Linked DNA regions of Homo sapiens: regions 1, 3, 4, 5 and 6 are each linked to region 2. The links come from fine-mapping of genetic effects on gene expression. A gene starts in region 2. Each other region holds a variant in brackets. All regions are shown on one strand. Distances are between the middles of the regions.

Region 1 (4,087 bases), 400 kb after region 2:
TTTAAAGTACCTAGAGAAAAAAAGTTAACCTAGAATTCTATGCAAAAATAAAATTTCAAAACTGTGAGTGAAATAAGAACATTGAAAAACATACGGAAGCTAAAAGAATTCACCAACCCACGCTACAAGAAATCTTGCGTCCTCCAGGCAGAAGCAAAAGGATACCAGATAAAAATGTGGTCCTACACAAAGAAACGAATATTGGAAATGGCATTTAGAAAGCATGTACTACACGTTTTCTTATAATTTAAATCTTTCAAAAAATATTTGACGTAACAAATAAAAGTAATAATAATGAATCACAAAGGTTATAGTGCATAAAGTAAAGATACATAACACTAGGATAAAGGCCAGAAAGGGAGGCATAATGACACTAGAAAGCAGACTATGATAAATTAAAGATGTATTCCGGAAACCCTAAAGCAGCCTCTGAAATAAGAAAACGGTTATAGCTAATAAAGCAACAAAGGAAAGAAAACGGAATGAAATAAAAGCTATGTAAACACTATGCTGGAACAACTACTCTCCAGGCCTCCACCCTATAGAAATACACCAGTGGCCAATGAGAGTGTACAAGAATGATGACTGCAGCATTACTTGTAATCATAAAATGATAAAACCAACGTAATTTTAAAGATATAGGAAAAGGGTTTTATTTATTTAACGGACAGACAATTGAACAAGCAAACAATGGGAGCAAGTCCTTTGCCAAAAGGAACACAGAGGGTCATGATGATGCTACTCCTCCAAGGATTTCAGAGTTCCCAGACGCCTAGTTTTCTGTCTAGTTCTTCTGGAAGATGTTATTCTTGGGGAGCAATAGGTCCTCGAGTTTGGGGCTCTTTCAGGTTCTCTCTCCATTTCCCCATTCTACTACAATAAACAAACAAACAAACAAAACAATTCTCACTTCCAGAAGATCCTGCCTGTGCCCCTTCATGAGCCTTTCAGGAGGTCTGGATGTCTGGTCCACCGCTCCCCGGCTTCTTTCCCAGCTTTTGCTTTTTCCTTTCCCAGCTCTTGACCTACCACCCCACGGCCGCACCACCGCCCAGCTGAGCCCCCGTGGCTCCACCGCGCAGAAGGTGCGCCAGAGACCCTGCCAGTTGCCCTCCCTGCCGGGTGCCGAGAAATCAACGCTTTGTAAAAAGAACTTCCCCGTGGAAAAAATCTCTTGATTTCCACTCTCAGGGCTCTTCAAAGGACTAAAAGCTAAAGGCGACGATGAATTCATTCCACAAGTCCTAGTCGTGCGCCCTGGTGAGTACCAGACCCTGCTCCCCGCGAGGGGACCCACGAGCGACCCTCACCACCATCCCTGCCCTGGTGGAGCCCCCGTGCGGAACACAGGATCCGAAGATGGCAGCGGAAGCTCCTCAGCGGCCCGGAAAGCGACTGGGCAGGGTGGGCACAGGCTCCTTCAATGGGTGAAGGCGGCGCAAAGAACGGGAAGAACCATCCCAGGAGCCCACAGGGCGTTCAGCTTCCCTTGGGGCCCCAGGCAGCTCGGGCTGGGTCGCCCACCAGGGAGTTTCTGGAAGCTTCTGCAGCAGGCGAGGGGCAGGGCGGGCGAAGGCAATTCTGCTGTTCTTCTGGCTCCAGAATCTCCTAACACGCAGGCGTCCAACGTGACCGGCGCGACTCACCGCTCTAATCTCTCTGGTTTTCCAAGGCCTTGCTCAGTGGTCCTGCCCGGTGGGCCCTGAGAATAGACGGAACGGAGGAAGTTCAGTGAGTGCGCCCTTCCTAGATGCCCAGTAGAGTTGGAAGCGCTTGTCTCTGTGGCGCAATCGGTTAGCGCGTTCGGCTGTTAACTGAAAGGTTGGTGGTTCGAGCCCACCCAGGGACGCTTATTGGAACTTTTGAAGCATTCACGCAATGTCAATCACTAGATAAATGGGGAAGATTTTATCTTCCCAAAGTCTCAAGCCACTAATTTATGACAGATCCATGTCAAGGGCCGCCCACCTCCCCGACCAGATTCTTAGCCGGCTATCTCCTGAAATGCCGGGTTTACACCTGTGTCACTAAGGAATCCTGAAACAGAGACCTAGGAACCCACTTCTGATGTGATAAAATTCTAATTCAGTCCGTTATACGCTTAAACGAGT[A/T]TTTACGTGTCTCCATTTTTTCATATTTTAGTAATAGGAGTCCAGTATTACCTCCAGGATGTGCCTGGGTTTCCTGATTGCTCTATCAATAATGTGACCAGTGGAATCATTCATCATGAAAGTGATTCTCTCCATCATTTTTGAAAATAGTATTTTTCCTCAGTTTATGCATGATTTATTTAACCCTTTTCAAAATGTTTTTGTTAGCCAGGTATGGTGGCATGCACCTGTAATCCCAGCTACTCGGGAGGCTGAGGCAGGAAAATCGTTTGAACTTGGGAGGTGGAGGCTGCAGTGAGCTGAGATCACACCGCTGCACTGCCTGGGTATCAGAGCGAGACTCCATCTCAAAAAAACAAAATGTTTTTGAGATGACTTTAGTTTCATAGTTTTAGGATTACAAAGAATGCTGCAGTCACCAGTCCTGTACAGATATCTTTGGTCATTGTGGAAATGTTTACCCTGCAGACATTTCTATAGTGTAGAGAGCTGGATGTGCCATTGCTACATTATAGTGCTTGTATAATGCTTCTAATCTGAGTCCATTCTGCAAATGTATCTTTCACGGGAGCAGTACCAAATAATATTCCAATATGAATGTTTATAAGAGGAAAAATGTGCAGATGTGCAGTTGAGCTGCGTGCCTCTCCATGGGGCTCATGTTCATAAAATGGTGGCGTTAGCAATCATCTGAGAGTGGAGTTTGTGGCCCTCTGACGTCAAAATCTGAGGCAATGGACATGAAAACCCTCACTGTACATCCTCTGTAGTCTGGCCAGAATGATTCCTAGGTCGGTGGTCTCTTATCAGGAGGGAATGCTGCTTGCTTGTTTTGTCAAAACCACAAAAGGGAGGGAAAGCATCAGGCTGTTGGTTGATAACAGCAGTGAAGCAAGTCTCTCCAAAGGCTTGGATTGTTAACCCTTAGGAAAAAAAATCCTAATTCTTGCCAGATGGTGCCGTGCATTTCCAGGCTCTTGGTGTCCCAAACAAAGAACTGTACATGACACACACAAAGCAGCAAAGCAAAGCAAAATTTATTAAGCACAGTAACAGTCTCAGAGTGGGGAGAGTGGGCTGATCTCTGGGATGTGAGATCAGTATTAGTTTGGTGTACGTTGGGTCTTTTTATGTGTGTTTCTTTCTCTTCTCTTCCCAAGGATGCCTAATCGTTAGCCAGTGTTTGCCTTTTGATTGATAGGTGGGTTGCTTAGTTACTTTGGCCCTTGTGTGCTTGCACATTGCCTCCATCCCATAATTTTAAGTACATGCATGATGTGCAGTCCATATGCATGAGTTTTAATGAGCTGATTATCATATGGAGTCATGTTAAGGATACTTTTTTTCTCTAATGCACATGCCTATCTCTGAGGAGCTGCCCCTTTACTGGTTTGGATCTCACCGGCCATGGGGTCCTGGCTTGCTTTTCTTTTTTTTTTTTTTTTTTGAGACAGAGTCTCGCTCTGTTGCACAGTCTGGAGTGTAGTGGTGCAATCTCGGCTCACTGCAACCTCTGCCTCCCGGGTTCAAGCGATGCTCCTGTCTCAGCCTCCCAAGTAGCTGGGAGTACAGGAGTGCACCACCACGCCCAGCTAATTTTTTGTATTTTTAGTAGAGATGGGGTTTCGCCATGTTGGCCAGGCTGGTCTCAAACTCCTGACCTCAGGTGATCTGCCTGCCTTGGCCTCCCAAAGTGCTGGGATTACAGGCATGAGCCACCGTGCCCAGCCTTGCTTGCTTTTTTAAATCTTACTTTTTGTTTTGGCTGCTCAACTTCTGCCTTATATCTTGCTTCTTGCTCTCCCACCCCATCACCTTGCTTCTTTCTCTGCTTTCACTCACTCTGCCTTTTATCCAACTTCCAATTCCCTCTGCTGTTCTCCTGCATCATAATGGCAGTTAGTGAGGGGAGGGTTTTGAGGTGGCATGTCCAACCTCCTAGCCTGCCACATCCAGAAACTGCTTTCGAAGTTTCT
Region 2 (4,087 bases):
AAGGCAAGGAGGGGATACAAAGCTGGACGTAAAGTGAACACAACTCCAGCTAAAGTGTGGCCCAGCAGGTTTGGGAGGTGCAGGAGAGACACTCAGTCTAGGAGCCAGGAGACCCCTGAGTTCTTGCTCCCTCCTTTTCCAATTAGTCTTCTTCTCCGGGGCCTCAGATTTACTTATCTGTAATATGGGTGGGGCGGGCACGGACTCACGCCTGTAATCCCAGCACTTTGGGAGTCGAGATAGGAGGATCACCTGAGGTCAGGAGTTTGAGACTAGCCTGGCCAACACGGCGAAGCCCTGTCTCTACTAAAAATACAAAAATTAGCTGGGCATGGTGGTGTATGCCTGTAGTCCCAGCTACTTGGGAGGCTGAGACAGCAGAATCACTTGAACCGGGGAGGTGGAGGTTGCAGTGAGCTGAGATTGCGCCACTGCACTCCAGCCTGGGCAACACAGCGAGACTCTGTCTCAAAAAAAAAAAAAAAAAAAAAAAAGGTAGAATAGTAGTAACCAGATCCTCCCAGAAAAGCATCAAAGCCTCGCTCAAGAGAAGGGCTTCATGGAACTTTAAAGGCTAGGGCTCAGGAGAGCATAGCATAGGTCAGGTTGTGAGGAGAAGGAGAAAGAGAGAAGAGGGAAAGAAAGGCCAGCGGGAGAAGCGGGGTTGTCCACCTCCTGTGGGTTCCCCTTCTACCCTGGGAGAACTGGACATACACCCCAGGTGTCAGGGTGAGGGCCCTCTGAGTCTCTCCCTGTCTGGGGCTCCAGGGCGCCAACATCCCTGGCGCTCCCAAGGAGGGGGCCCGTCTGTAGCTTGGGAGTTGAACACAGACAATGGTTAGAGCACCAAAACGCCACACGCCAGCACACCAGCTGCAACTGAGTGTGCCTTTCCCAGATCCTCAAGCCACATAACTACACCGTGTGCGCCACCCACTGAGAGGAGCAGGGACCATCCGCCTTCCTGCCCACGTGGGAAACGGATGGACGGCGCCATCCACTCAGACTTCCGCAAAACCCTGGTCTGAGCTGAGCTGCCCTCTTCCTGTATCTTGGGTTCAGCCAGCTCACACCTTCCCCGGGTGGGAATACGGGATTTGGGGTTCACATCTCTGCAGCAGGCTACAGGCAAGCACGCAGGAGATGCTCGGCCCTTCCTTCTAGTTGCACCACATGCGGAATAAGTCTGGACAAATTACATCCCTGAGCCTCTGTTTCCTCATCTGTAAAATGGGTTCTTCTGTCATAAAGCTGTGCCTGCCCCACAGTGAGTTACAGTCATGATCATCATGGTGACTGCTCAGGAAAGGGACATGAGAAGAGGTAAAATGTGGGTGGTGTTTGTGGAGGGGAGCGGATGGGGGTGGCACCTGGGCTCTCAGGCTGGGAGAGGTTGCGGGTGACAATCTCCCTGATAAGGGCAGGCAGGCTGGTGATCTGAGCGTCCTGGGCCAGGTCCCGCGCGCCCAAGCCTTTCTCCTGGCACAGGACGCTGCTCTCCAGTGTCTGTGGGAAAAGCGAGAGGGTCTTCAGGGGACATGGGACCCGGGGCTCCCTGGCCTCGTGGGGAGAGCCACAGAATCCTACTGCCCAAGATACAGGTCCCCAGGAGCCCCCTCAAGATGGAGTGAAGCCTGGGAGTTAGAATCCAAAAAATCCCCATGCAAAGAGCCTCTTGTGTGCTCACTGCCCCAGGAAGAAGGCCCAGGGCCAGAGATGAGAACCAAACCCTACGGGTAACTCCCAAACCCCACTGGAGGCAGTCCAGTGTTGGGGGCCCCAATCCGGTTCCGACCCTAGATGGATGAGGATCTGGCTATGCCAGAGGTCCCCCAAGCCCTAAAATCTGGCAGTAGAGACCCCCTTCTCCCAACCCAGGGCACTGGGATGAGGGAGCCACAGCAGGTGCACCCTGTGTGTACCTCTGCCCCCCATCTTGCCAGGAACTGCAAGCGGGGGGCCCCTGTATACCCCACCACCACCACACCTCTCCCACCCCTTGATCCCCAAGACGCACACACCTCTCACCACTCCTGTTAAGTCCACGCTGCCCCGCCCCAGACAGGGTGGGCACAGCCCCCAGGACCCACCTGGATAACCGTCTCTAGTGTCAGCTCCACCTCCTGTGCCCCCGCCAGCCCCAAGCTCATGGGGGGGAGGCTGTGGGCATGCCTCCAGCCCCCTTCTCCAGGACCCCAAGACTAGCTCAGTCAGCACGCGCCACAGCCAGGATGCTGTGCTGAGCACCAGGCAGATTAAGCTTAAATCCGGCGGCGCCCCCATGTGACCACCGCGGTGGGAGGAGCAGGATGTGGGCTGAGGAGGGAGGGGATGGGAAAGGACAGGAGAGGAGGGAAGCAGAGGCAGGGAGCCAAAGGAAGAGGAAGGATGAAGAGAGGGGAGGAGAAGGGAGAGAAAAGGAGGGAGGAGAGAGAAGAGGGAATGGGAGGAGGAAACAGGGGAGACACCTGGAGGTCAGGACCTCACACACTCTTCACCCTGCGCAGGTTGCTGGGTCCTAGAGCCCTCCAAGCCCAGGGGGTGGGGTCAGTAGCCATGCGGCGGGAAAGGCCAGAGTCCTAAGTATTTGTGACCATCTTTCTGGCCCAGAACGGGAGTCACATGGTTAGCTAAGAATGAGAGGATTTACAGCATGCTGGGAGTATGTTTTCCCACAACAGGTGTAGGGCAAAGAATGCAGGCTGTGAGATCACCCAGGCCAGGCTTGGCACTTAGTTGGGCATGAGCGGTCCAGCCTGGACTGATGAGCATTTATGCAACACCTGCGGCATTCCTAGGTCTGACCTAGACACAGTGGTAGAGCCTCGAACTACAAATGCCCTAGCCTTGCCCTTCAGGCACTTATTGGGAAGCTTCTGGCCCCTTCACACCCACCCCAGCCCCCACTAGCTGGGTGCACCAGGGACACTGACTTTGCCTCTCTGAGACTCAGTGTCCTCTTACGTAAGATGTGATAATATTGGTACTCATCTCTCGGAGCCGTCCGGGGATGAAACAGTATCGTGTGTGCATACCCAGCACATGACATGGTGCTGGGGGGTCACGTGGCCAACACTCAAGAAATACTCATTTCATTCATTTGAAAATCCAGAAGGTACAGTCCCAGCCAGGCGCAGGCACTCATGCCTGTAATCTCGGCATTTTGGGAGGACAAAGCGGGTGGATCACCTGAGGTCAGGAGTTCAAGATCAGCCTGACCAATATGGTGAAACCCCGTCTCTACCAAAAATACAAAAATTAGCCGGGTGTGGTGGTGCACACCTGTAATCCCAGCTACTTGGGAGGCTGAGGCAGGAGAATCGATTGAACTCAGGAGGCAGAGGTTGCAGTGAGCCAAGATCGCGCCATTGCACTCCAGCCTGGGCAACAAGAGTGGAACTTTGTCTCAAAAAAAAAAAAAAAAAAGGCACAGTCCCTATATCCCAGGGCCCTGAGACCCAGAGGTCACCCACCACCTCCCATTGTTCTTTCCCTGGGGCAAGGAGGCTATGTGCTCTAGTGCTTAGGCGCACAGCTCTGGAGTCAGTATCAGGTCTGAGGTTGCATGTGAGACTCAGCTCTGTCACTTGCAACTATGGTGTTCAAGACAGTAAGACCTTGAACAGGTTACCTCCCTGAGCCTCAGTTTTCTCATCTCTAAAAGGAGACTAAACCAGGCCAGGTGCAGTGGCTCAAGCCTCTAATTCCAGCACTTTGGGAGGCTGAGGCGGGCAGATCACTTGAGGTCAGGAGTTTGAGACCAGCCTGGCCAACATAGTGAAACCCCATCTCTACTAAAAATACAAGAATTGGCCTGTAATCCCAGCACTTTGGGATGCTGAGGCAGGCGGATCAGGAGGTCAAGAGATTAAGACCATCCTGGCCTACATGGTGAAACCCCGTCTCTATTAAAAATACAAAAATTAGCTAGGCATGGTGGTGCACACCTGTAGTCCCAGCTACCTGGGAGGCTGAGTCAGGAGAATCGCTTGAACCTGGGAGGCAGAGGTTGCAGTGAGGCGAGATCATGCCACTGCACTCCAGCCTGGCGACACAGTAAGACTCCGTCTCAAAAATATAAATAAAT
Region 3 (4,087 bases), 240 kb after region 2:
ATATGGAAAGTCAGAAAACATCTGGGTCCTATGAAAGGACATCAAAGATCTGAAGGCCCAGCTGCAGAATGCCAACAAGGTCATTCAAAACCTCAAGAACCGGGTCCAGTCCCTCTTGGTTACAAGTGATTATTCATCTAGTCTGGAAAGACCCTGGAAGCTGAGAGCTCCTGACACCCTGGAGGGGTCTTCACCTCATAGTGTCACTGATGAGGATGAGTTGTGGCTGTCTGATGGCACTGGGGCTTTCTACTCTCCAGGACTTCAGGCCAAAAAGGACCTGAAGAGTCTCCTCCAGAGAGTATCCCAGCTGGAGGCCCAGCTCCCAAAAAATTTATCTAGGGACATATAATTAACATATATATAACAGTTGAAGAACAGTGGCATGGTAAATTTTTGTTTTGTTTTGTTTTGATACAGAGTCTCACTCTGTCACCCAGGCTGGAGTGCAGTGGTGCCATCTCGGCTCACTGCAACCTCTACCTCCCAGGTTCAAGCAATTCTCCTCCCTCAGCCTCCCAAGTAGCTGGGATTACAGGCATGTGCCACCATGCCCAGCTAATTTTTGTGTGTGTTTTTAGTAGAGGAGGGGTTTCACCATATTGGCCAGGCTTGTCACGAACTCTTGACCTATGATCTGCCTGCCTCAGCCTCCCAAAGTGCTGGGATTACAGGCATGAGCCACCACGCCCGGCCCATACTAAAATTTTTAGTGCGATACTTTATCAGGGTAGAATTTGCTGTTAAATGCCTCCTATGGCTTATGTGCCAGAATTCAGTTTGGGGGAGTTCCTTAGAGATGTTCTCATAGAAATCTCTACAGAAGCCCCCATAACTTATCATCCACCCTTTCCTCTTCTGTCCTGCATTAGGAAATATGATTCCCTGATTCAGGATCAGGCCCGGGAACTGTCTTACCTACGGCAAAAAATACGAGAAGGGAGAGGTGTTTGTTATCTTCTCACCCAGCATGCAAAAGATACAGTAAAATCTTTTGAGGATCTCCTAAGGAGCAATGACATTGACTACTACCTGGGACAGAGCTTCCGGGAGCAACTGGCCCGGGGAAGCCAGCTGACAGAGAGGCTCACCAGCACACTCAGCACCAGTAAGTTGGCCACAGGGCTTTGGATACTCTCAGTCACCCCACAGTTCCAGCCCCTGGTGGCCACCACATCTCCACTGCAACTTTTTAACGTAGGGTCCTGTTTCTATTTCATTTCCTGGGGCTAATATAGGATCAAGACTGCTCAATGGGGAGCATGGAGAGGAACACACAGGGCTGGAGATGCCATGGTTACAACTCTAGAAACTTCACCACTCATGGAATGTGACCTGTGGGGCAGGGGAGACATCTCTCTGGTGCTAAGAGGGAGTAGGGGACATGACATGGAAGGGCCTTGTTATAGGAGGAAGAGCCGTGAGCTAAGAATTGCAAGACATCGAGGCGCTGAGGCCAAAGGGTCCGTGAGGAAACAGGCGCAGCTCACGCCCCTCGGCCTACGGGAGGGAGGGCAAGGAGGGTTCTACGGTTCCTGGGAGGACGAGAAGAGCCAAGAGCCCCGACGGCCGGCGCCGGGGAAAAGGCCCCGAGGCGGGGTCCGCATCCCTGGAAGGGCGGCGTCCACCCTCCTGAGAGGCACGGGGCGCCCAGGGCTCGGAGGCTCAAAGCCCGCCGGCTCCTGCAGCTTCTGGGAGCCGAAGAGTGTCAGCCGGGAGGATCCCGCACACGGCGCTTAGTTCTGGAACTGCATACCCAGGGGAGGATGCGGGAGCCCGAAGCCCGGGTATGTGTCCCCGAAGCCCGGGTGTGGGTCCCCATGGTTTTCGTGTTGGGGGTGGGCGCGGAACGCTAAGCCTGGGCCTATTGGGAGCCATAGTCTTCTTGATGGCTGGTGCTTATTGGGCTTTTTTCAGTCGAATTTCGAAATGCAGTTGAATTTCTTACTTTGGAAACGATAATAGAAATGGCTGATCTAAGATTTTCATGATGATATTTTGCCTTTTTTGGTGCATATGCAGTTTCTGTGGTGTAGTGGTTATCATGTTCGCCTCACACGAGAAAAGTCCCTGATTCGAGACTGGGTGGGAACGTCGTGGTTTGTTTTTTTTTTTGTTTGTTTGTTTGTTTTTTTGGTCCCTAAATTT[T/A]GTGAGTTTAATCGAGGTTGGGAAACAAACAGAAAAGTATTTGAACCTGTGGCTACATTTTAGACCTCCTCAATCTAGACAGATTGTTGACCAGGTACAATTTCCACTGGTCTGCCAGCAAGAGGCCTGCTTAATATTAGCTTTGGTTCCAGAAATTCCTTAAGATTCTCTTTATTCTCTTCTGTCGCCTGAATTTTCACAGGCTGACACTGAAAGTGGATGACATCTTAGCGCATTTCCTAAGGGTCCCGCTTGGTTTGGCTTTACTCTGGTAAGTTGCAGATCTGGCTGATTTGCAAGACAACAAAAACAAAATATTTTTTAAAAAGGTTCTAAATCTGCATCTGGAAGTCATAGAGTCCATATTCCTAAATCACATGAATTATGTATATACATTTGCATGCATACCCCTTCCTCAAATAATCCTCAGAAAACCGGTTAAGTTTTAGCATCTGTGACTCAGATGCATATGAGGCCTTGGTAGATTTAGAAGTTGAGAGTAGAAAGTACAGGTTTGTATTTTAGAAGGAGATTTGGGAATAAATGTAGCTTTGGTTGATATAGATCATATGTTAAGGTTTGTTGGCCAGAGCTGGTGTGTGTCTTGGGTGTTGGGCAAAGAACAGAGAACAGCCAAAGCTCTGCGAGGTCAATGTGAAGGATGATTTCCTTGGTGGGCTCAAGTTTATGACTCAGCCTGGACCTAGCTTGGCTTCTCAGCTTGAGAAGAAGCATGATTCCATGTCACAGCTCCTGTCTTTGAAAAAGTCATAATGACTCCCAGACCCAACATGTGGAGAAAACTCTGGATTTGTCTCTTCAGTTGAATGTCTCCATTGAAAATTGAGGAAAGAAATCTCTCTAATATTTGAACTTCATCAAAAGACTAATATGTTAATATTTGACCGTCAATATTTCCTTAAACTAGTCTACTGCTTACATAGCTAACACATCAAAGCATATTAACTTAGGAAATGGGATTCTCCCAAACAATGAAACATTGACGGCAAGCGTTCTTCATCTTTTCACATCACATTTCCTTCAAATGCTTTATACATCTTCAAGCAGACAAATAATAGTATTATAATGATTACGAGACCGATCATTACTCTTTTGCCAAAAAAAACCAACGACAAAAGACTAACTTAGTGGACCAACCTTTGTTTCTTCATTATCTCTACCGTGGTTCTGTCCTTTTATTTCGTCTTTCTTCTAATTCTGCTTCTGCTTCTTATTTCCTCCCTGGATTTGAACTTTACTTACCTAAACTACCAGTTAGGTTACCTTCTCAGAACCTCTAAGGCAGCAGTTTGAGGTTGATGATGGAAGATTTAGGATTAGAAAAAAGAAACATGAATGAATTTCTGATGTTTTATTATAGGGGTTTGTAATGCAGGTAGAAAGACCTTTTTCAGAGTTAAGAGTTTGATCCGACAAATGAGCTATTTTGATATTTATAACGTTGTCTAATAAAAGTTTCCTATAAAAACACATTTGGTTTGGATGTCTTTGTTAGCTTTTAGTCGACACTTGAAAAAACCGCTTAGAACAGTTTCTAAATCTTTGTGGTTACTCTTTTCTGTTATCCTCCAGGGGGTAGTTCCAGAGAGGCGTTGGTGGTTTAGTGGTAGAATTCTCGCCTCCCATGCGGGAGACCCGGGTTCAATTCCCGGCCACTGCACGTGGTTGTTTTTCACTTCGCTATGGCTCTTTACTTGTCTTTTACGCTGAAAATTATACTGCATAACCCAAGAGTGCATTTAGGGGCTTGGCCACCACAAGGTAAAGTGACAACAACACTCACCAAAGTAGCGGCAGGAGACTAACCCAGGACCCCATGCAGTTGTTGGACTCAAACAGCTTAGCAAGCTGGCAAGCATGAAGTGTCTCTGGTGAGTCACTGCAGTTTTGATACTGGTACCTGTTACTTTCATTTATT
Region 4 (4,087 bases), 95 kb before region 2:
GTATAATAAAAATTTTAAGAAATAAATGTTATTCTACTTTATTAACAAAAAAAAAAGAACCTGTTCCTTTACTTGCCGCAGGGGAATGTGAAGGTGCCAGGAGTCCTTGTCCTTGGAGAGATGGACAGGGCTTCAGAGCTGAGCGGGGGTGGGGGTACCCTAGCTGGAAGGAGGTGATGAGCCGTGGAACTGACATCAGCAGGGCCTGCAGCTTGTTCCCAGCTTTGCCACTCACCAGCTAGACAACCTTGGACAAGTTCCTTCACCTCTTTGCTGCTCCATTCGCCCATCTGTAAGATGGGATCCATAATTGTGCCTACTTCATTCATCTGGTATGAGAATGCCTGGCACTTATTCTGAACACTCAGTTAGTGTTAGTGTTCTGTATCTTCCCAGTTTCTATAGTTTTCAGTACCAGAATTACTGAAAACCAAATCTTGGTAAGTCTTTGGATACGTCGGTGAGGCCAGGTTTGAGATTCCTCCAGCACAGAGCAATGACCCTGGTCAGTTGTGAATCCAGTTAGTTCCACAAATGACCTCGTGGGGCCTCTCACTGCAAACATCAACTCCACAGCACTGCTGCCTTGGCTGGCATGCTCACTGCACAGCCGGGCGTGGTGGCTCACGCCTGTAATCCCAGCACTTTGGGAGGCTGAGGCGGGAGGATCATTTGAGGTGAGGAGTTCAAGACCAGCCTGGCCAACGTGGTGAAACCCCGTCTCTACTAAAAATACAAAAATTAGCTGGGCAGTGGGTGTGCGTGCCTGTAATCCCAGCTACTTGGGAGGCTGAGGCAGGAGAATCACTTGAGCCTGGGAGGTGGAGGTTGCGGTGACCGAGATCACACCGCTGCACTCCAGTGTGAGCAACAGAGTGAGACCCTGTCTCCACAAAACAAAAAAGCAATGCAAAAAAGGAGAAAGGGGGAAAGTAAAAGTGGAAGCTCCTCCAAACTCATCCCGTTGATAGCTTAGACATTTCCTTCCACACTCTACGTTATTACAGTTATGCAGCATATATAAAACTTTCTCCCTTCAAAAGTAAGGTACCATAGAGCCAGGAGCTGTGGCGTGTGCCCCTAATCCAGCTACTCAGGAGGCTGGGGTGGGAGCATCACGTGAGCCCAAGAGGTCGGGGCTATGGTTTGCCATGATTGCGCCTGTGAATAGTTACTGCGCTCCAGCCTGGGCAACATAGTGAGACCCCATTCCTTTAAAAAAAAAAAAAAAAAAAGCCTGGAACAGTGGCTTCTAGCACTTTTGGGAAGCCAAGGTGGGAGGATTGCTTGAGGCCAGGACTTCAAGATCAACCTGGCCAACATAGTGAGACCCTGTCTCTTTTTTTTCTTAACATACCAAAAAAGATTTTAAAAATAAAGGGGTATCCTATAGTCTGCCAGCAGCTATTTTTTTTTTTTTTTTGAGACGGAGTCCCAAAAAAAAAACTGCACTCCGCCTCCCGGGTTCACGCCATTCTCCTGCCTCAGCCTCCCAAGTAGCTGGGCCTACAGGCGCCCGCCACTATGCCTGGCTAATTTTTTTGTATTTTTAGTAGAGACGGGGTTTCACCGTGTTAGCCAGGATGGTCTTGATCTCCTGAACTCGTCATCCGCCCGTCTCAGCCTCCCAAAGTGCTGGGATTACAGGTGTGAGCCACTGCGCCCGGCCTCTATTTTTACCTCACAATGTAGAAGGGATTTCAGTGCTAATAAAGACCTACCTTTTTGTTGTTGTTGTTTTGTTGTGTGTTTTTTTTTTTTTTTTTTTTTTGAGACAGAGTCTCGCTCTGTCGTCCAGGCTGGAGTGTGGTGGCGCGATCTCGGCTCACTGCAGGCTCCGCCTCCTGGGTTCACGTCATTCTCCTGCCTCAGCCTCCAGAGCAGCTGGGACTACAGGGGCCCGCCACCACGCCCGGCTAATTTTTTGTATTTTTAGTAGAGATAGGGTTTCACCGTGTTAGCCAGGATGGTCTCGATCTCCTGACCTCGTGATCCGCCCGCCTCGGCCTCCCAAAGTGCTGGGATTACAGGCATGAGCCACCGTGCCCAGCCAAGACCTCCCTTATCTGTGTGTGTGTGTATGTAAAAATTTTTGGAACTCCTGCTTAAGAGCACTGTGGCATGGGTGTACCCTTATTTAACCATTCCCCTACTAAGGCACATTCGGGTGGTCCCTATTCACCTTTTCATCCAAGGCTGCTTTTTTAAGTCGTAGCTGGAAACCTCTGGATCATCCGGAAAACAAAGGTTTCATGCATCCTGAGGCAAGCAGCTGAGAAAACGTGTGACTCACCGAGAATGAGCCTTAATGAGCATTTTCTGGCTTAAAGGGCTGATTCAACAAGCAT[C/T]TGTCTCAGGCATTATGGAAGGTGAGGTGCTGGGGACAAGGATGAACAAGATTTGTTGCCTGCCTGCCACCTAGGAGCCAAGGTCACAAAGGAAAAAGGAACAAACATCAGAAATTTCAAGAACAGGGCCGTGTGCCCCTCCCTACAGCATCTTGGAATTCTTGACTATCTCAGTGAGACACACAGTACATGGCCCTGCGGCGCTGAAGCCTAAGATTGTGGAGTGCACTGGCTTCTTGAAAGACAGTGGAACTTGAACTGCGGGCCATGTCTGTGGATAGCTTCTGTTCCCCAGCTCAGACCTAATGGCTTTCTATCAGCCTGGGGAAAGGTCACATTCCTTGGATTCATGGATAATTTGACTTGGCTTCTAATCTCCAGATCTGTAGGGAAAGATGGGTTTTTCTCATGAATGACTTTTTTTTTTTTTTTTTTTTTTTGGAGTCTCGCTCTGTCACCAGGCTGGAGTGCAGTGGTGCAATCTTGGCTCACTGCAACTTCCGCCTCCCAAGTTCAAGCGATTCTCCTGCCTCAGCCTCCCAACTAGCTGGGGTTACAGGCGTTACGCAGCTAATTTTTGTATTTTTAGTAGAGACAGGGTTTCACCATGTTTGTTGAGCATACTGATCTCTAACTCAAGCGATCCACCTGCCTCGACCTCCCAAAGTGCTGGGATTACAGGTGTGGGCAAGCACACCCTGCTTCTCATGAACAACTTAATGCTTTGTAAAGATGGGTCCGCAACAACTGATAAGAGGCAGGGTGTAGCTTAGGAGTCGCCACTTCAGATCAGCGTCATCAGAGGCTGGGTTGACTCTGATGGTCACTCTCCGCAGTTGAACTCCAAGTTAAATTGGTATATGTTATCAACTGATAGTTTAATTTACTGCTTAATCTTTCATTGAATTGGAGACAAATGTTCTATTGCAACAGTCACAAAGGCTTTTCCAGTAAAACTGCAGACCTGTGTGGGGAACAGTATTTTGTCCTGTATGCTACTTCTGTGCCCAGTGTGCCTTCATTTACAAGATAATACTTCCAGCCTGGCCCTGTGGCTCACGCCTATAATCCTAGCGCTTTGGGAGGTGGGAGGATTGCTTGAGCCCAGGAGTTAGAGGCTGCCGTGAACTAGGATCGTGCCTCTGCACTCCAGCCTGGATCACAGAGCCAGAACCTGTCTCTAAAGAAATTAAAAATAAAAATAGAATTTCGTAGGACTGAAGCCAGCCATCCCTTCTTACCTAGCTCTGGACATGTTGAACATCTGTGACTCTATTTTCCTATCTGTAAAATGGGAATTAACAGCATTCCCCTCTCAGAATTATGGTTGAAGTCTAAAAGTAAATGTGAAAGCATCTTGCCTGCAGTAGAGTAAATGCTCCATAAACTCAAGTGAACGGATTTGTCTTGAGTACCTACTATGTGAAAGGCCCTCGAGTGAATGCTGGGAGGCTGCAAGAGTAATTCCTTCCCAACCCTGAGTTGACAGCTGGCATGTTTCTGACATGACTGGCCAGAGCTAGAGGCCTCCCTGTTGGGAGGATGGTTTTTCCGTGCAAGGCTAATATTGCTTATTTCTCATCTCTCCCGTCACACTGCTCAGGTCAGGGAGGGACTCCCATTGGTCAAATTCTCTTCAGGCCCCTTCCCTTCCTGGCACCAGGATAACTACCATACAAAGTGCTGAAACTCGGCCAGGCACAGTGGCTCACTCCTGTAATCCCACTTTGGGAGACCAA
Region 5 (4,087 bases), 190 kb after region 2:
ATAAATGAGACTTCATCAACATTAGCCACACCTTCTCATCAAAAGATACCACTAAGAAAGCGAAAAGGCAAGCAAGCCACAGACAGAGAGAAAATACCCACAAAACGTATCTGACCTCCACATCCTGCAATTATAATTATAGTGGTCTGGTACACTGCACCCAGTTTCTGCTGGATGGAGTATTTTCTGGGTGTCTCTAATGAGTAAGAGAGGGCCCCATGGGATATTCCTTCAGTTCCCAGATGAACAGTGGGAAAGACTCCACATTGACCAACCTCGGGGGCCTGAAAACCCAGGTCCTCAAGGAGGGTAGAGTATACCTGGACCCTGACCCAGACCCCTGGATGGGCTGTGCCAAGAGACCCAGCAAGGGAAGGGATTTCCTCCTGCCTCAGGTTCTCTGTTCTTCTGTGGTTAGACCACCTGAACCCAACTCCCTCCCCAAGCACTAGAGATGGGCTTTTCCAAGGGCTGGGGATCTTGCTGTCCTGAGGACAGCTGAGCAAGGGGGTCGAGGAGGAGCTTGGGTTGTGGAGGAGAGGAAACCGGGTAAGATGCGTGAAGCAGTTGGCTATACCAGGCACAGAGAGGACCCGCTGGGACCCAAGAGCCTGCATGTGAAGCCAGGCCTTGGGCCACCTTGTCTGTCAAGGGGGTGCCTACTTCCATGGTGTCTTCAAAGGGACTGTGGAAAGAGAGGCCTTCAGCCCACACCTCTGAATGCTTTTCCACCACAGCATGCCCTGTGGCCTTTATCCTGCTGGTGTGGAACAGTCAGACCCCTGCAGGGCTGCAGAGCCTCTGTACTGGGCGGCATCCCAGCCTGAGTGCCAGAGCTCAGAGGGCAGGCCCCCGAGCAAGCAGAGAGGAGGGCACCTTTTGGACAGAACGTGTGGGACAAGAGCGATGGCTCATCCGTTCAGGTTCCTCACAAAATGAGAGTCAGGAAGATCAGGGCGCCGGCCTGATTTCCCAGGCAGGGCTGAAAGCAGACAACCGGAGGGAGAGCAGCACCTGGGCCAATGAGGTAGAAGACAGAAGACCACAGTGTACTCCTGCCCTCAACCTCACCCCCTCCCACCCACATCCTCCACACTCCCTGACCACCTTCCTCAGAAGTGTAATAGGAATCCAGATTCCCCCTGGCCTGGTTGCTGCAGGAGGCACAGTAGCCTGATGGAGCCTGAGGCAGGTGTGGGAAGATGTGGATTGTCTAACTGGAGGTTGGGAGTCCAGGGTGTAGAAGCAGCTTGGAGTGCAGGATTTGGTGGTACGTGTGTGGCAGTAGGCAAAAGAAAGAGACAACTGGCCGGGCGCGGTGGCTCACGCCTGTAATCCCAACACTTTGGGAGACCGAGGCGGGCGGATCACGAGGTCAGATGAAGACCACGGTAAAACCTCGTCTCTACTAAAAATACAAAAAAGTAGCCGGGCGTGGTGGCGGGTGCCTGTAGTCCCAGCTACTGGGGAGGCAGAGGCAGGAGAATGGCGTGAACCCGGGAGGCGGAGCTTGCAGTGATCTGAGATCGCGCCACTGCACTCCAGCCACTGCACTCCAGCCTGGGTGACAGAGCAAGACTCTGACTCAAAAAAAAAAAAAGAAAAGAAAAGAAAAGAAAAGAAAAGAAAGAGACAACTGAGCCACTTGAAATA[C/T]CATGAGAATTCAAATTCAGAAAATTCCCGGGGAACTATGCGTGCAGGCACTCACCAGATCCACAAAACAGCTGCTGCATAACTGCATGTTGCAAGCAAGCCCTAAATTGCTGATTTTGAAACAGCCTGATGGGTTCACAAAGACAATTTCTGAATAGTCGTAAGAGCAGAGGTGCACTAAAGCCACTGTGCCCTGCAGGCCCAGATCCCAGTAAGTTCTTCAAGGAGTAAGTCTTACTTCCATTTATGGAAGATTTTTGGAGTTGTCCTTGGTCACCCCCAGGAATGTTTTGGTTAGGAGTAGAATTTTAGATGTCATCAATTTAAAAATTAAAACTAAAACGCTGGAACTCATAGAGAGATAAAATTAAGAGAATACATTCACTATCCTGAGTAGAAAGATTTCTTATAGAACATAACAGGCTTTAAAAATAAAGAAAAAATATGGCAAAATTTCATCAAATTAAATGCTTTGAGAACTAAAATTAAAATCCAAAGCCACTCAACCAACTGGACAGACTGTTTCTTGGCCAAGGAGACCCCAGAGAAGTCTTAACTACTGAGTTCCTGCCCAGTAGTTGGAATCTCAGACACCTCTCCTTATACTCTCTCCCTTTGTGGTTTAGACACAACTGACCAGCATTATTGTTAAAATAGAGATCCTAAGACTGACAGAACAGACTCCTTGCAGTAGTAAGATATGGTATGATAAACGAGACCTAAGGCCACGCCAGGCAAGGTGGAGTCATGCGCCCCTCAACTTAAAGAATAAACTATGTTCCAATTGCCACAGGTTTTTTTCTTCTTCCTTTTTTTCTCTAGCTAAACAAGCACTGGCCTTGAGATAAGCAATGCTGAAGCACTTGCAGCTCACCCATTACCATAAACTGACTGAGCCCTCCCTACACAAGCCATAACTACAGCTTTGATTGGACAAGAGACTGATTTCAGTAACTTCCCCTTGATAAGAGAGCACTGGCTGTGGACGGGTTCTGGACGGTTTACAGAGGCTGTGCACTTGACTGCCTTTGTGTCCCTGCTTCCCCTTTTGAAGCATAGGGCCTAATTATAATGTATTTAAATGTTGTCTCCACCCCAAAATGAACATGGGTTGCATGTAACAGGCATGTTTACTCAGCATGCATGCAGCAGGATCCCTTCATGAATATTCAGAGCTCCTCCTATTCCCTGTTGAATATGTATATGTGGCCCACCACATCAACATAAATCCCTGTTCCCCCCTCCCCTCCCTGGAAACGTACTTTTCAGGTTTCAGCAGCAAGAGGGTATGCCTCCCTGTCTGTCAGAATGGCCACCTTGCAGGCTGTAACCATTTATAAAAAATAAAATCTCCCTTCTAAATTTATAAATTGTGTGATTTTTCAGTTGACAGCTTTCAGTCAGACTTTTCACTGACTGGGAAAAGTCATTTGCAATATATTTATTTTAAAAATGACTCCTCAGCATACAGAATTCTTGTGCAAAGATCACAAGCATTCTTATACACCAATAACAGACAAACAGAGAGCCAAATCATGAGGGAACTCCCATTCACAATTGCTTCAAAGAGAATAAAATACCTAGGAATCCAACTTACAAGGGATGTGAAGGACCTCTTCAAGGAGAACTACAAAACACTGCTCAACAAAATAAAACAGGATACAAACAAATGGAAGAACATTCCACGCTCATGGGTAGGAAGAATCACTATCGGGAAAATGGTCATACTGCCCAAGGTAATTTATAGATTCCATGCCATCCCCATCAAGCTACCAATGACTTTCTTCACAGAATTGGAAAAAACTACTTTAAAGTTCATATGGAACCAAAAAAGAGCCCGCATTGCCATGTCAATCCTAAGCCAAAAGAACAAAGCTGGAGGCATCACGCTACCTGACTTCAAACTATACTACAAGGCTACAGTAACCAAAACAGCATGGTACTGGTACCAAAACAGAGATATAGACCAATGGAGGAGAACAGAGCCCTCAGAAATAATGCCACACATCTACAACTATCTGATCTTTGACAAACCTGACAAAAACAAGAAATGGGGAAAGGATTCCCTATTTAATAAATGGTGCTGGGAAAACTGGCTAGCCATATGTTGAAAGCTGAAACTGGATCCTTTCCTTACACCTTATACAAAAATTAATTCAAGATGGATTAAAGACTTAAATGTCAGACCTAAAACCATAAAAAGCCTAGAAGAAAACCTAGGCAATACCATTCAGGACATAGGCATGGGCAAGTACTTCATGTCTAAAACACCGAAAGCAATGGCAACAAAAGCCAAAATTGACAAATGGGATCTAATTAAACTTAAGGGCTTCTGCACAGCAAAAGAAACTGTCATTAGAGTGAACAGGCAACCTACAGAATGGGAGAAAATTTTTGCAATCTACTCATCTGTAGTTTCATCAGAATCTACAAA
Region 6 (4,087 bases), 54 kb before region 2:
CCTCTCTGGGAGCCGATGTGCAGGTGCAGGGGCACCCAAGGCAGGGAGTCCGGATGCTTGAGTTCTAGATCCATTCAGGGCCCTTCTGCTCTATACAGTCCTGACCTTGTGGGGGTCCCTACTGGCCAAATGAAGAGAATCAATGAGGACCACAAAAGTCCTAGCAGGGCCAACATTCATTCATTCAGCAGCGATGTGTTGAGTCCCTACCACGTGCCAAGTGCTGGGCTAGGCCCTGGGGATTCAGCGATGAACCAGGCAGACACATCGTTGCTCCTCATCATGCTGCCAGTCCAGGGAAGGGAGACAAATAGGAAACAAGCAGACATGAGAAACTCCAGCATGTGCTGAGTGCTGGACAGAAATCAGCAGGAGGGCTGGTGGGCTGGAGGTGGGGCGGCATCTTGGCACAGCTGAAATTCCAGGGAAGACCTGAAGGAGCTGAGCAGGCCTCACAGGCCCAGGGAGTGTCAGGTGCAAAGGCTCTGAGGGAGGCAGGAGCATGTGGAGTCCTAGGAGCAGCCAGGAGGCCAGCAACAGGAAGGGGCAGGGTAAGGTCAGGGAGGTGACCCATGACCAGGGTGGGGAAGGGTCTTTACCATCGAAGAAGAGTCTGGATCCTCTAGGAATCTGCTTGTGGGGTCCTAGGCTCTTATGGGCCTGACCTTGTGACCCCCGCCTCCACTCTCCAGAAGCGCCTCGGGCCCCCGTTGCCCCTCCCGATGGGGTACCCTACATGCTTTGCCTCCCCACAGCAGGCTTGCTGGCTCAGGGCCAGTATGACCTGGACCCGCTGCCGCCGTTCCCTGACCACGTCCAGTACACCCACTATAGCGACCAGATCGGTAAGGGCCTTGCCGGGTCACCGAGGCCTGGCTGCTCAGATGTGCCTGGCTCAGCCAGGGACCGCACTGGACACGCTGATGGGAACTCTGGGGGTTGGTCCCTGGCTCAGGAGGGAACTTGTTTGCCCCAGGGGCTGGGGGATTAGCCTTACTCCCACCAATTCCACTTTCATCTTTGTTTGCAGACAACCCAGACTACTATGATTATCAAGGTAACGGGCTAGGGGTAGGATAGGACGGGCCGGCAGCTGGGGTGGGGAGACCCCCTGGGAGGGGTAGAGGGAGCAGACCCCCTTATCCTCCCCTGGCTGCAGAGGTGACTCCTCGGCCCTCCGAGGAACAGTTCCAGTTCCAGTCCCAGCAGCAAGTCCAACAGGAAGTCATCCCAGCCCCAACCCCAGGTAGGCCCCAGACCCTGCTCCCACCCGTCTCAGCTCCTGCCTCACCCCTCCCCACCCTGTCAACCCTGGGAGTGGGGGTCTGCCAGGGCTGGGAGAGGTGACTCCCCTTGCCCTGAGGAGACCCCTCCCAGTGATGTCTGCCTACCTCTGTCTCCACACCAGAACCAGGAAATGCAGAGCTGGAGCCCACAGAGCCTGGGCCTCTTGGTAAGGGCTTTCTTGACAGCTGGAAAAATGGAGGCACGCCCTGAAGTTGGGGTGGAGTAGGGGGTGGTGCTGGTGGGCTGGAGGTCTTTGGCCCTTGCCCATGTGGGCTCTTGGCAGTGTGGGCAGTATGACTGCCGTAGGCTGGCATCACCAGGCCCCC[C/T]AGGCAGCTCCAGGAGGTCCCACCTGTCCCCAGTGTGCCTGGCTGGAGGCTAAATTGGCAGCCTAGGAAGGCCCCTGACCTCACAGATACTGGGAGGGGCAGGGAGTGTGCTGGGGGCTTCCTGCCAGCCAGAGAGACTGAGTGGTGCACATGTGGAGGCGAGGAAGGGCCAGGGAGTGCAGGCTGGCTGAGCGGTGCCCTCCGGCTGCCCTAGCTGAGAGCTTGAAAGAACAAGGTGTGTGTGTGCAGGAGAATCCGTGTGCTCACTCTCGTGTGGGTTGGTGTGAGCGCTCCTATGTGGGCTTCTGTGAGCGTGGGCACGTCTGCTCGGGAGTTGGTATGGGCTTTTGTGGCGATGCATGGGTGGGTGCAAATTTCTGTTTGAACTTAGGCTTCTATAGTAAGTGCGGTTGTGAATTGATACGTGAATATTACAGCCCTGGGAAGTCTGACAATGCTGCGTGGGTCTATGTGGGCATGTGTAGGTATGGGTGTCTGCACGGGGCCTGAAGGTACAGGGGGGACTAGGCCCTGTGAGCCAGCCTCAGGTGGGTGAGGCTGGGGGCCGCCCCCCACTCTGGGCTCCTAGTCTGACCCCACCTGTCACCAGACTGCCGTGAGGAACAGTACCCGTGCACCCGCCTCTACTCCATACACAGGCCTTGCAAACAGTGTCTCAACGAGGTCTGCTTCTACAGGTGAGCACAGATGGGCAGCTGTCGGGAGGATTCCGGAGCATGGGGGGCTAGAGGGCACAGGGGACAGCTCTGGCCCGCCAAGGTGGGAGTTGGAGGAAAGATAGTGAGTCCTTAAGTTGAGCTCAGTTCTGTGGTTGAGCCTGGGCCAGGGACCTCCTCCACTCCTGGGCTCCAGTGCCAGGTTCTGTCCGGGCTCCCGTGCCAGGTTCTGTCCGGGCTCCCGTGCCAGGTTCTGTCTGGGCTATCCCAGTGGGATTGGGTGGAAGTGGGGCTGAGACCTCCCGTGCCCTGTCCCCGCAGCCTCCGCCGTGTGTACGTCATTAACAAGGAGATCTGTGTTCGTACAGTGTGTGCCCATGAGGAGCTCCTCCGAGGTAGGAAGGCCACCTCCCCAAGACCTCCCCTGTCCCCACACCCGCATCATTATCTGGCCACCTAGCCACCCACCTGATGTTTATTCAACACATATTATCCACCAGGCCCACTTCCAGGACACCCTGAGCTCCCCTCCTTGCTACTTTTCATCCTCAAAACACTCCCATCACCAGAGTTGGGGGAGGGGCAGCGGTTCCCATCACCCAGCTCCACCCTGACCCTGCCTCCTTCCTGCCCCCAATAGCTGACCTCTGTCGGGACAAGTTCTCCAAATGTGGCGTGATGGCCAGCAGCGGCCTGTGCCAATCCGTGGCGGCCTCCTGTGCCAGGAGCTGTGGGAGCTGCTAGGGTGGTGCTGGCATCCTGAGTCCTGGCCCTCCTGGGATCTGGGGCCCTCGGGCCCTGCCTGACCTGGTGCTTTTTTCCCCATCCCCATGTTCCTTTTATTCTGTAAAAAGTTAGTGGACTGCAGCCCTGGGGGTTGCAGGCTGCGGTGCCTCAGGCCCCTCCTTCAGCCTGTGGCCACCTCTGGGGCACAATGGGGGCTCCCCACTGCCCAGTCTGCCCCTCGGGTTGGGGGAGTATCCCAGGCCTCTCTGTGGGACCTGGGCCCCTGACGGGCCTTCTCAGCCCGTTTTGAGGACAGACAGTCCCCCGAGGTAGGCTACATCCCCCCACCCCAGCTGGTCTGCTTGGATTTCCTACAGCCCCCGTGGGCATGGACCACCTTTATTTTATACAAAATTAAAAACAAGTTTTTACAAAAGATCAAGTCACTTTTTCGGTGGAGAGCACAGAGGGGCCAGCCAAGTGCCCCCAACGCGGACTGTCCTGAGAGGCTCCTGACCCCTTGGAGTGAACGATCTGCTCAGGTGCCCTGTGCTTCCGCAGTCCCAGCCCCACCGCCTTACCCGCCGGCTCCAGCTCTGCCCTGCCCAGAACGCTGCGTCATGACAGTGTACGCGCGCATGCGTGTTGTGGGAATTGCACGGGAGATGGAAGGCTTCAGGGACACAGCTTTCTGATGACCGGGGCTGCTTGGTGAGCACATTGAGTTCCCATCACCAGAGGAACACAGCAAAAATGGGAGGCCGCCCATGGGGTGGGGGGGGCACAGGGTCAAGGCAGGCGGACTGACATCCAAGGCCTTTGTTTGGGAAGTTGGGGAGATGGGTGCCATTAAGAGGGCAAAAAAAGCGGGGCACAGGGACTCACACCTATAATTCCAGCACTTAGGGAGGCTGAGGCGGGCGGATCACTTGAGGCCAGGAGTTCGAGACCAGCCTGGCCATGGCGAAATCCCGTCTCTAGTAAAAATACAAAAAAAAATTAGCCAGGCGTGGTGGCGTGTGCCTGTAATTCCAGCTACTCAGGAGGCCGAGGCACAAGAATTGCTTCAAT

Which allele goes with the higher level. Alleles are on the strand shown, and positions count from the first base shown. SD is a standard deviation of normalised expression in the study named. Not every link is listed here.
With allele T in place of C in region 5, the expression in lymphoblastoid cells of the gene that starts at base 2,238 in region 2 is higher (small effect, 0.37 SD a copy in GEUVADIS).

The links. PIP is the estimated chance that this variant, and not a neighbour inherited with it, causes the effect.
Region 1: its variant is the best candidate, but not a certain one, in a credible set for the expression of CROCC in thyroid (GTEx, PIP 0.59).
Region 3: its variant is the best candidate, but not a certain one, in a credible set for the expression of CROCC in stomach (GTEx, PIP 0.89).
Region 4: its variant is the best candidate, but not a certain one, in a credible set for the expression of CROCC in adrenal gland (GTEx, PIP 0.66).
Region 5: its variant is the best candidate, but not a certain one, in a credible set for the expression of CROCC in lymphoblastoid cells (GEUVADIS, PIP 0.90).
Region 6: its variant is the best candidate, but not a certain one, in a credible set for the expression of CROCC in whole blood (TOPMed, PIP 0.76).

What each region holds. Positions count from the first base shown.
Region 1 is chr1:16,518,347-16,522,433 of GRCh38, reverse strand. It overlaps TRN-GTT5-1 (tRNA-Asn (anticodon GTT) 5-1), which reads left to right and starts at 1,776; the gene lies at 1,776-1,849. The variant A/T (reference allele first, on the strand shown) is at 2,112.
Region 2 is chr1:16,920,082-16,924,168 of GRCh38, reverse strand. CROCC (ciliary rootlet coiled-coil, rootletin) reads right to left here and starts at 2,238. Exons shown (of 37, transcript NM_014675.5): 1 at 2,091-2,238; 2 at 1,371-1,506. The coding sequence starts at 2,150. RefSeq lists enhancers at 1-324, 508-1,279, 1,280-2,051, 2,052-2,823, 2,824-3,596.
Region 3 is chr1:16,678,013-16,682,099 of GRCh38, reverse strand. TRG-CCC4-1 (tRNA-Gly (CCC) 4-1) reads left to right here and starts at 3,759; the gene lies at 3,759-3,829. The variant T/A (reference allele first, on the strand shown) is at 2,149.
Region 4 is chr1:17,014,691-17,018,777 of GRCh38, reverse strand. SDHB (succinate dehydrogenase complex iron sulfur subunit B) reads left to right here. Exons shown (of 8, transcript NM_003000.3): 8 at 1-56. Among named protein-coding and RNA genes, the nearest start is that of ATP13A2, 4.8 kb to the right of the region's middle. RefSeq lists enhancers at 1,909-2,444, 2,445-2,979. The variant C/T (reference allele first, on the strand shown) is at 2,349.
Region 5 is chr1:16,731,042-16,735,128 of GRCh38, reverse strand. No RefSeq gene overlaps it. Among named protein-coding and RNA genes, the nearest start is that of TRG-CCC5-1, 5.8 kb to the right of the region's middle. The variant C/T (reference allele first, on the strand shown) is at 1,654.
Region 6 is chr1:16,973,867-16,977,953 of GRCh38, reverse strand. It overlaps MFAP2 (microfibril associated protein 2), which reads left to right. Exons shown (of 9, transcript NM_002403.4): 3 at 756-845; 4 at 1,031-1,057; 5 at 1,160-1,246; 6 at 1,409-1,453; 7 at 2,224-2,311; 8 at 2,612-2,685; 9 at 2,931-3,452. The coding sequence ends at 3,034. It overlaps LOC105376806 (a long non-coding RNA gene), which reads right to left and starts at 2,093. Exons shown (of 2, transcript XR_947003.3): 1 at 1,392-2,093; 2 at 159-285. RefSeq lists an enhancer at 2,697-3,504. The variant C/T (reference allele first, on the strand shown) is at 1,614.